2 separate regions of the Homo sapiens genome follow, and region 1 is linked to region 2. The links come from fine-mapping of genetic effects on gene expression. A gene starts in region 2. The other region holds a variant in brackets. All regions are shown on one strand. Distances are from middle to middle.

Region 1 (4,392 bases), 67 kb before region 2:
GCAGTCCACCCACAACACCCCCCAAACACTGAGTCAGAGGATTTATTTTCAACTGCGTGTGTGAGCTATTTGGCAGGATCAGGCAGAAAATTTGCAGCCACAGTTATCGTGGTCTAAGTATCCGATGGCTTGTGCCAGTGGTTCTCTGGGTGTGGTACCTGATCAGTAACAGCATGAACCTCCACCTTGTGAGATATGCAGATTCTTTTTGCCCCCCCGCCCCCCGCCTCGTCCCTTTCCCCCAAGGACTGAATCAGAAACTGGGTGTGGAGCCCAACAAGTTGTGTTTTGTTTTTTGTGTTTTTCTGAGACAGGGTCTCGCTCTTGCCCAGGCTGGAGTGCGGTGGTGCGATCTCAGCTCACTGCAGCCTTGAATTCCAGGCTCAAGTGATACTCCCACCTCAGCCTCTCGAGTAGCTGGGACTACAGGCGAGTGCCACCAAGCCCAGTTATTTTTTAAAATGATTTTTATAGAGACGGGATCTCACTATGTTGCCTAGGCTGGTCTCGAACTCCTAGGCTCAAGAGATCCTCCTGCCTTGGCCTCTCAAAGTGCTGGGATTACAGGTGTGAACCTCTGTCCAGCCAATAAGCTGTGTTTTAACAAGTGCTCAGGGTGGTTCTGCTGCAGGAAACTACTGGCTGATGGATACATGGATTCCATTATCCACCCATTCATTGATTCCTGCATTCACTCATCCAACCCTAAAGGAGGTAACCAAAACAGAGACAATCCCATGTGTAAGCATGACATATCTTCTCTGCCTTCTCTACCCAGCAAAATGATACGAAAATGCATTGCGAATATGTTTATAAATCAAGCTCCTTTTCCATCAGGTAGAATTCCTAGTGCTGTCAGCTAAAATGAAGATTTCTCCAAGATGGGCCTCCAGGGCTATTGCAAAACAGCTGCTGATGGAAGGAAATTCCACTTGCTGTGCCTTATACCAGGCTGGGAGTGTCACAAGAACCCTTTACAAGCTGCTCCCACAATGACCAAAACTGTCTTCTCATGAGTGCAAAGCAGGCATGCCCAAGGGGCCCAGGTTAGCATGGTGCAGGACTCCGCTGGGAAGGTGAGGGGTTATCGTCGCGGGGGAGTGTCGACTAACTGGGCTGGTGGTGCAGGGGTAAAATAATTTACCAAGACAGTTGGAGGTAAAGGCAGATTTATTAGAGAAAGTAGGAAAATACGTTTCGAGAAGGCAACGGGCAGCCTGCAAGAGAGGAGCCGACTGAAAAGAAACAAAGGCTTGCTGGAGATTTTATAGGATGGTTTTTGGGCTGATTGAGAAAACCAAGGCAGTAGGGAGCTAGCTTGCATTCTTCTGTTAGCTGGGGTGTTTGATAAATTGAGGCGTTTGATAGTGAGCAGGAAGTTTGTGAGTTATGTATGTTATCTGCGCAAGAAGCCACATGTCCTGGGCCATAAAGAAAAGCAGACCTATAGCTTATCTGATTCCTCTTTTTGTTTATATGTTCTGGACCATGAAGAAAGACAAACTTATAGCTTATTTGCTTTCTCCCTTTGCCTTCCCCTGCTCCAGCCAGCCTAACTCCTTTTTTCTAATTAGGATTCCACAGTTATGTTGTCCCTGTGCCTGCAGCCTGTGAATGGACGCCCCACCACCTCCGTCACAGCAGTGGTCAGCACAGATAAATGCACACAACACACATCGATCTGGCCCTCTGAGAAGAGAATGTTAGGCTTCTGAAAGAAGAGATAAATAGTGAGAGATAACATCTAAGAATCAAAATAATATATTCAGTAATTATTTTCTGAACCTATCCTAATGCTCTGACCGATACATTCTTTAGAACATCTACCCGTACATTCCAAGGACCCTTTTTCCACGGCCCTTTTTCTCCCTGTATCCCTCTTCCTGCTCCCCTTCTTTTGCACAGGGCATGTTTCACATATACAAGATGTTCTTACGTGTCATCCCACTTTAGAGATGAGGAAATTGAGTCTCAGGGAAGGCAAACATCAACTTTGTCTTGGGGAAAGGGCAGGAAGCTGGAAGGGAGGAGGAAATGAGCTCTGGCGAAGGAAAGAGGACATGGCTGGGATCCTTATGGGGTGGTGTACGAGTACCCGTGCCCCCCCCGATCTGTGGGCTGAGGGTGGCGGTGACTAGCGCTGGGACCAGCTCCTTCTCTCTCGCTCCCAAGCCCACAAGAATTCGGGGAGAAAGGGTGAGGTAGGGGGCTCCGGGAGAGCGGAGAGAGTTTGGAAAGAATCCATCCCTCCTTCTCCCCGGCGGCTTTCTCGAGACCCTCACACAGCGCCCCGCCCCGCCCCAGTACATTTCCTTTCAGGGAAAGGGACAGGGAAGAGGCTGTCGGGAAATGGCGGCCGCGGCCGGGCTGGGGCTTCAGCGGGAGGCAGCAGAGGGGAAGTGGTCAGCGTGGCGAATGACGGAA[G/T]GTGGCGAGGGAGAGGAAGAGGGGTCGGGTGTCCGCGGAGCTCCAAGAGGGAAGACAATCGCTTTGCCAAACACGGCAGGGCATCTGGAAAGGCCTGGGAACCTCACCCGCCCTCCCAGGCCCTTCGGGCTCTTTTCGGTCCCATTAGGAGGAGGGGGAGGGCGGCAGGTGGGACCGGGCACAGGCCTAGTCGTGCGACAGGAGAAGGGAAGGAAGGGCCGGCCCCAGCTGGGTCCTCCTTGCGTCTGGCCTGTGCCGGACGCCCCCGACTCCGAGTGATCTCGGGCCGGTCCCCGGGGGAGTCCAGCTTCTCGCGCCAGGGGAGTTCTCAGCCCCAGGGCAGTCCAGGGATTAGGCGGAAGGGGGCACGCAGCCACCTGGCCGGGGCAGGGGGAGCTGCGAGGAGCCTTTTTTTTTTTTTTTTTTCCTGCGCAGAGCCCCTTGCGTGACACACAGTAGGCGCTCAATACATGTTTATTTTCAGTTGAGTGTTGCTTCAGCTTTTATGGCTTGTGATAAATCCTTATCCTTCTGTTCTAGAAACTCGCATTGTCTACTGGATCAAGGACAGACAGCTCACCAACCGTGACAGCACCATACTGGAACTTCAAAAAGTTCTGAAAACATGTTGGTTCGTTTGTTGGAGTATTTTTCAACTTAAATTCCTTTTCCTTTTTTTTTTTTTTGCTCACTTTTTCCTCTGCAGAAAAACCTTAAAATGTTCTACCTTTTCCTTGAAACCTCCTCCCACTCCTTAGTTCACATTGACTTGTCTTTAAATGTTTTTGAGAAAATAATCAGAAATGCACAATTAGTGCTTGGTGGTTCTCAAATTATTTCACGCGTGGTAGTTTTGATTTTTGCTTTTCCAGTGAGGCTGTACCTTTCATCCTTAGGCAAATATGATGGCTTTCAAAAGCAGCTATGGGGTGGGAACTGGGAGTGGCTGCAAATGGGCATGGAGCGTCTTTTAGAGATAACGAAAATGTCCCAACTTAGATTGTGGTGATAGTTCGCACAACTCTATAAATTACTAAAAACTATTGAATTTGCACTTGAAAAGGGGGAGAACTTTATGAAATATAAATTATAACTCAAAGAAGCTCTTAAAATGCCTATGGAATAATAAGTAAAGAGTAGTGGGGATATGATCTATTTTGTGGGGAGACTAGCAGCAAAGTAAGACATAAAGATAAAGAAACATACACTGGCCTGAGGAAGTAACAAAGTCTCTTTGAGCAAACTTTGGACAGGCTCCTCTCAGCTTTCTTTTCAACTACACCTTGTCCTTGGGCCCTGTCCTCGGCCTGCCTAGCCCAGTTTTAGCAAGAGTCCTGCTGAGTAACTCCCTCACCCTTGATACCTGATCACCTTGTCCTGCCTTGAGCGAGAATCCTGTTTAGTCAGTTGAGCAAGAATCCCCCTACCCTTGATATCTCTCTCCCCTTAGGAATTTTCTTTCTACTGACTCCCTCACTCTGCTGCTTGACTGTAAATCCACACTTGTCCTAGTTGTCTTTGGATTGAGCTTAGTTCTATACTGAAGTCTCTTTTCCTCTATTATAATAGTACTCAAAATATGGCTTTACTGCTTTTGACTAGTATCTGGCTCTGTTTCCCATTGGCGGAAGGCACTCTCAGACAGTGCTTCTAGTAGTATATATTAGCATGACCTGCCAGGGTACAATTCTTTTTAAAAAGACCACCAATTGGCTGGATGCAGTGGCTCACGCCTGTAATCCCAGCACTCTGGGAGGCCGAGGCGGGTGGATCAGGTCAGGAGTTCGAGACGAGCCTGGCCAACATGGTGAAACCCCCATCTCTACTAGAAATACAAAAATTAGCTGGGCATGGTGGTGTGCGCCTGTAATCCCAGCTACTTGGGAGGCTGAGGCAGGAGAATCACTTGAATGCAGGAGGCGGAGGTTGCAATGAGCCAAGATTGTGCCACTGCACTCCAGCTTGGGT
Region 2 (4,392 bases):
CCAACAGAGTAGAGGAGTGCCCATTTCTTGACAAACCAGTCAACAATATTATCAAGTTTCTAAACTTTGAGAAAATCATACTTGAAACATGGTAAGGCATAGTTGCTTTGATTTGCATTTCTTTGTTTGAGCATCTTTTCATATGTTTATTAGTAATCTATTTCTTTTCTGTGAACAAATCTGTTCATGTCTTTTGGCACATTTTTCTATTGGGTTGTTTATCATTTTACTAATGATCTGTAAGAGCTTTTAGATTATTACAAGTTAGCCTTTTGACAGTCAATGTTTATGGTTTTTTTTTTTTACTTTACCAAAGTTTAAAATTTGTATGCAATTAATTTATCAATATTTTCCTTTGGTGGAGAAAGTAAGTTCGTCACTTTCAATTGAGTTCTGAAAAGCCATTAGTAAGATTGTAAGGCACTAGGACTTCCTTTCTTGGCTCCTGAAAGGGCCTCCTCCACACAGGGGCCCCTCACAGTGGAGCCCCTCCCTCTGGGGTGTCCTATTTCAATGTTCTAAGAAAGAGGCTGCCTGGAGGGTCTATATTTGGAGTATGACTCCTCAGCGGGGACAGGTGGATGCGTGGGGACTAACTTCTGCATATTTGGTCCCTGAGTTTTGGGATTATTCTGAGGGGCTTGTATGGGAGGTGCAGTGAAGTTGTAACACAAGGCAGGACATGAAAAAACTTCTTTTTCTTGGCAATTGCTTGGGATCCTGTACATTGCCCTTCCACTTGTGAGGGAAAAAAATAATGACACGGACATCAGGTGTGTTGCAGTGATTCACAGTCATCCACAGACCCTCACCACCATCTCCACTGGAAAATATTGAACACTCGCCACTGCTAGGGTAGTATGTAGTACATGAATGGCAGACACCGGCGAGATCTCAAGTGTTACGACGGATGAAAATTCCACCTGTTAAGTCTCCTTTCCATCCAAGCTCTAGCAGTTGGTTGTTCCATGGGTGTGGTGAGGCTGATCTGATTACATGCTTATGTAAAATCCAAATAAAGCCCCTTGAATGGAAAACAGGTTAATTTGGGAAGTCACTAGTAAAGCAGGTTAATTTGGTAAGTCACTAGTAAAGCACTAGGCTCATCAGGAGTTGGGTCTTAAATATATCCTCTAGAAGTCTTCTCTGAAGAAGGTCTTAGACACCTGAAAAAAGATGCTGAGTTCAGCCAGAACTTCAAAAGTTACAAATCACCTGTGTAAAATTGTCAATATTAGAAAACGAAATGTCTTTCCAAAGATTAACTTATAGATCATATTGAATACGTGCTGGTTTTGTTTAGGACAATTTTGTATTTAAAATGTCAAGAATTACTAGTCAATTTTGAAAGCTGTAAAATAGTTTGCAGTAACAGAAGACATTTTAAAATGTGGCACAAAATAATGTAAACAAAAGAATGAGTCTTTTGTTATTTTTACACCCTGAATATTTTTTGTGTCAAATGAAAATGGCTATACTGTATTTTCTGATTACAATATTAGAAAAGAATGTCATATTAAAAGAAAAAAAAGGAACACGAAAAAGAAAATTAAAGCTCTACTTGCACCTTCTGCTTTCCTTCCTGATACCCCCTTCCACAGCCCATTTGGTGCAGGCATTGTACTTAGAGAGGGCAGGTCGTGTAGGGGGCGGGTGGGGAGTGCTGGTCTTATAGTCTAAGAGAGAAATAAGTGATTACTCAAAGAAGAAACATAAAAGGCCACAGCCAAGGGCCGGGAGTGGGTAGGGGGATGCAGACCCTCCCCTGTAACTGAAGATGGGTAAACTCCAACCACAAGGCGATGATGCCACTTGTGGGCCCTCAGATTGGAGAGGACGGAGATGAGTGACAACGCGTGCGCACTGGGGCACCGAGCACAGACCAGAGAACGGGGATGTCTGTGCGTGCGGAGTGGAGGAGGGGGGAGTTCCTGGTGACTGGCCGCCGGCCCTTGGTGGGTGGTAGGGGGTGCTGGGGAGGAGGGCGAGCTCGGCGGTGACGCGCGGTCCTCACGTGACCCGGAGCTGCAGAGCTACGCAGCCTTCGTTGCAGTCGTCACTCGCATCTGGCTACCAGCTCCCCGCTGCCCTGCGCTCGGCGGGCTGGCATCGGGCCCGGGGAAAGCGGAGCAGGTAAGGGCCCTGGGGCCCGCGCGCCCTGGCCAGGCCGGCAGAAGCTCACTGACCCCGGCAGCGGTTACGGGGCTTGAGGGGGCGGTGGTCTATGCTGCCTCAAGTTCGAGGAGCCTTTGCCTCTGATTCTCCCTAGCCCCCTTGCCCCCGCCTACATCTGTGCAGGCGAACCGTGGGCTTTGATTTGTGGGGAGATTGTCTCTGCCAGAGGGAAATACAGAGATTGAGATGCCCATCGCTCTAATCACTGGCCACACATGTCCGCTCGCTTCCTGCTCAATTTAGTGGAAGGGATGCGCCACGGTGGCGTTTGCAGAGAAAATGGTGGGCCTTAGAGACTGGACGGTGGGGTTGGTAAGGGTGGTGTCTCAGACTGTGGGGAGGGACGTTTGATAACCAGGTTCCTGAACCCGGAAAGGCGAGTATTGGGATCTATGTCCTGGGCTCTAGACCAACACTAAGTGGTTTTACTCTCTCCTGTCTGTCGGACAGTAGTTCGGTGTAGCACTGTTTGCGGCGAGGAGAAAGGAAGGAGAGGAGAAAACTGCACTGGATCAAGGAGGTTAGTGTGAGTACAGACACTATCTAAACCATTGGAGTTCCATATGAATTCTATGACAGGAACTTAGGTGCGGCTGTCTGAATGGGATGTGGGGTGGGGCTAGCTTGGGGACTTTCCCTAAACTGCATTTTACTTACCAAGCTTAGGACTTTTAAATTGTATGTTGAAGACCAATGAAGACAGCAAACTTTTCTACAGATGCTTTTATTTGCATTTCAGATAATATTGAGAAAAAGATAAATTATATTAAAGAATATTATTATTATTATTATTTTTTAGATAGCCTTTGGTGGGGAAGGATAGTGATTTTGTAGAAGCAAAAGGCTTCCCCTATAGCTTTTCTCTTCTGCTGGAGACTCCTAGAGATAGGTTGAAAGGGACGTGGACAGCAGTAGGTTGTGGTTCTAGAGTATGGGATCTGGGGTCTCCCATCTCTCCTGCCATCCTTCAGTTTTCCAGATCCCTCTACCTACCTGACCATCTTGGTGAAGGAAATGGTGGGCTTTTGGGGAAATCCCTAGAACCCTACAGGTGGTTTTAAAATAATTTGCCTTGTTGGGCCTAGTAGCTCTTGCCTGTAATCCCAGCACTTTGAGAGACCCAAGCAAGAGGATTGCTTGAGCTCAGGTGTTCAAGACCAGCCTGGGCAACATAGCGAGACTTCATCTCTACATATAATTTAAAAATTAGCTGGGTATGGTGGCACAGTCTGTAGTTCCTGCTACTTGGGAGGCTGAGGTGGGAGGATCTTTTGAGCCTGGGAGGTCGAGACTGTGGTGAGCCATGATCTTGCCACTGCAATCCAGCCTGGGTGACAGAGTGGGGCTCTGTCTCAAAATAAATAAAAAATAAAATAAATAAAATAAAATAAAATAAAATAAAATAACGTGCCTCTGTCTGTTGCCTTTTACTTTTCCTGCCTCCCTTTTCCATCCTTCCCATTTCAGTGCTGGGGAAGCCCCAGGCTTTTTTTTTTTTTTTTTTCTGCCAGCAAATGGGTCTCTAAATCCAGGCAGGCAGGTACAGGGACCTATGTCTTAGATGGTAAGTGTCACAAGTACTTAACATCCACTCTCTTCTTTTTCTCCATCTGTTCCAAGGTCTTCCCATAGGCCTGCAGTAGGGCTGTTTACCATTGGAAGCAAGGGAAAGAGGAGGAGATCAATCTAGAAGCATGGAGGTTGGTGTGAAGTGGGGGTAGTCTCTGGGGATGACAAGAGAGGGTGGGCATAGGAGGTGGGTGAGATTTAAGAGGGTCTCAGTGGAGTGCTGGATTGCCACAGTGCTGCCATGCCTCCTGTGGATTTCAGTGCAGGAAATGATAGGAATATGGGGGTAAGGGTGGGCTGGAGTATGACTGGGGGAAGACTTGATGGGGGGACCATGAGATGGTACACATTAGTATATAGAACCTGGGCTCTGGCGAGGCAGACATTGGGGTCAGGGATCAGGTTGCTTGTCTGTTCTACCAGGGACTCGGTTTCCATTACCTACTGTTTGTTTACTTGTCCATAGATCTGCCTGCATGTCTGCTGCAGGGCTTAAGATCACTGGAAGCAAAGAAACAAAGAGGAGATTGCTCCTGATCAGTATAGACTGGTAAGAGTGTGGGGACTGCCTGGGTAGACCTCTAGAGTGGGTTGGTGGAGACCAGTGTGCATCCAGTAAGGACCAGTGACCAGTCTGGAGGATGAGGA

What was found. PIP is the estimated chance that this variant, and not a neighbour inherited with it, causes the effect.
Region 1: its variant is fine-mapped to the expression of ARMCX4 in whole blood (TOPMed, PIP above 0.99). The same link has a PIP of 0.9 or more in blood mononuclear cells, esophagus mucosa, esophagus muscle, gastroesophageal junction, monocytes and sigmoid colon.

Annotation. Positions count from the first base shown.
Region 1 is chrX:101,415,946-101,420,337 of GRCh38, forward strand. It overlaps a transcript of ARMCX4 not described here. Among named protein-coding and RNA genes, the nearest start is that of HNRNPH2, 9.9 kb to the left of the region's middle. The variant G/T (reference allele first, on the strand shown) is at 2,425.
Region 2 is chrX:101,483,398-101,487,789 of GRCh38, forward strand. It overlaps ARMCX4 (armadillo repeat containing X-linked 4), which reads left to right and starts at 2,059. Exons shown (of 6, transcript NM_001256155.3): 1 at 2,059-2,133; 2 at 2,626-2,695; 3 at 3,796-3,875; 4 at 4,211-4,294.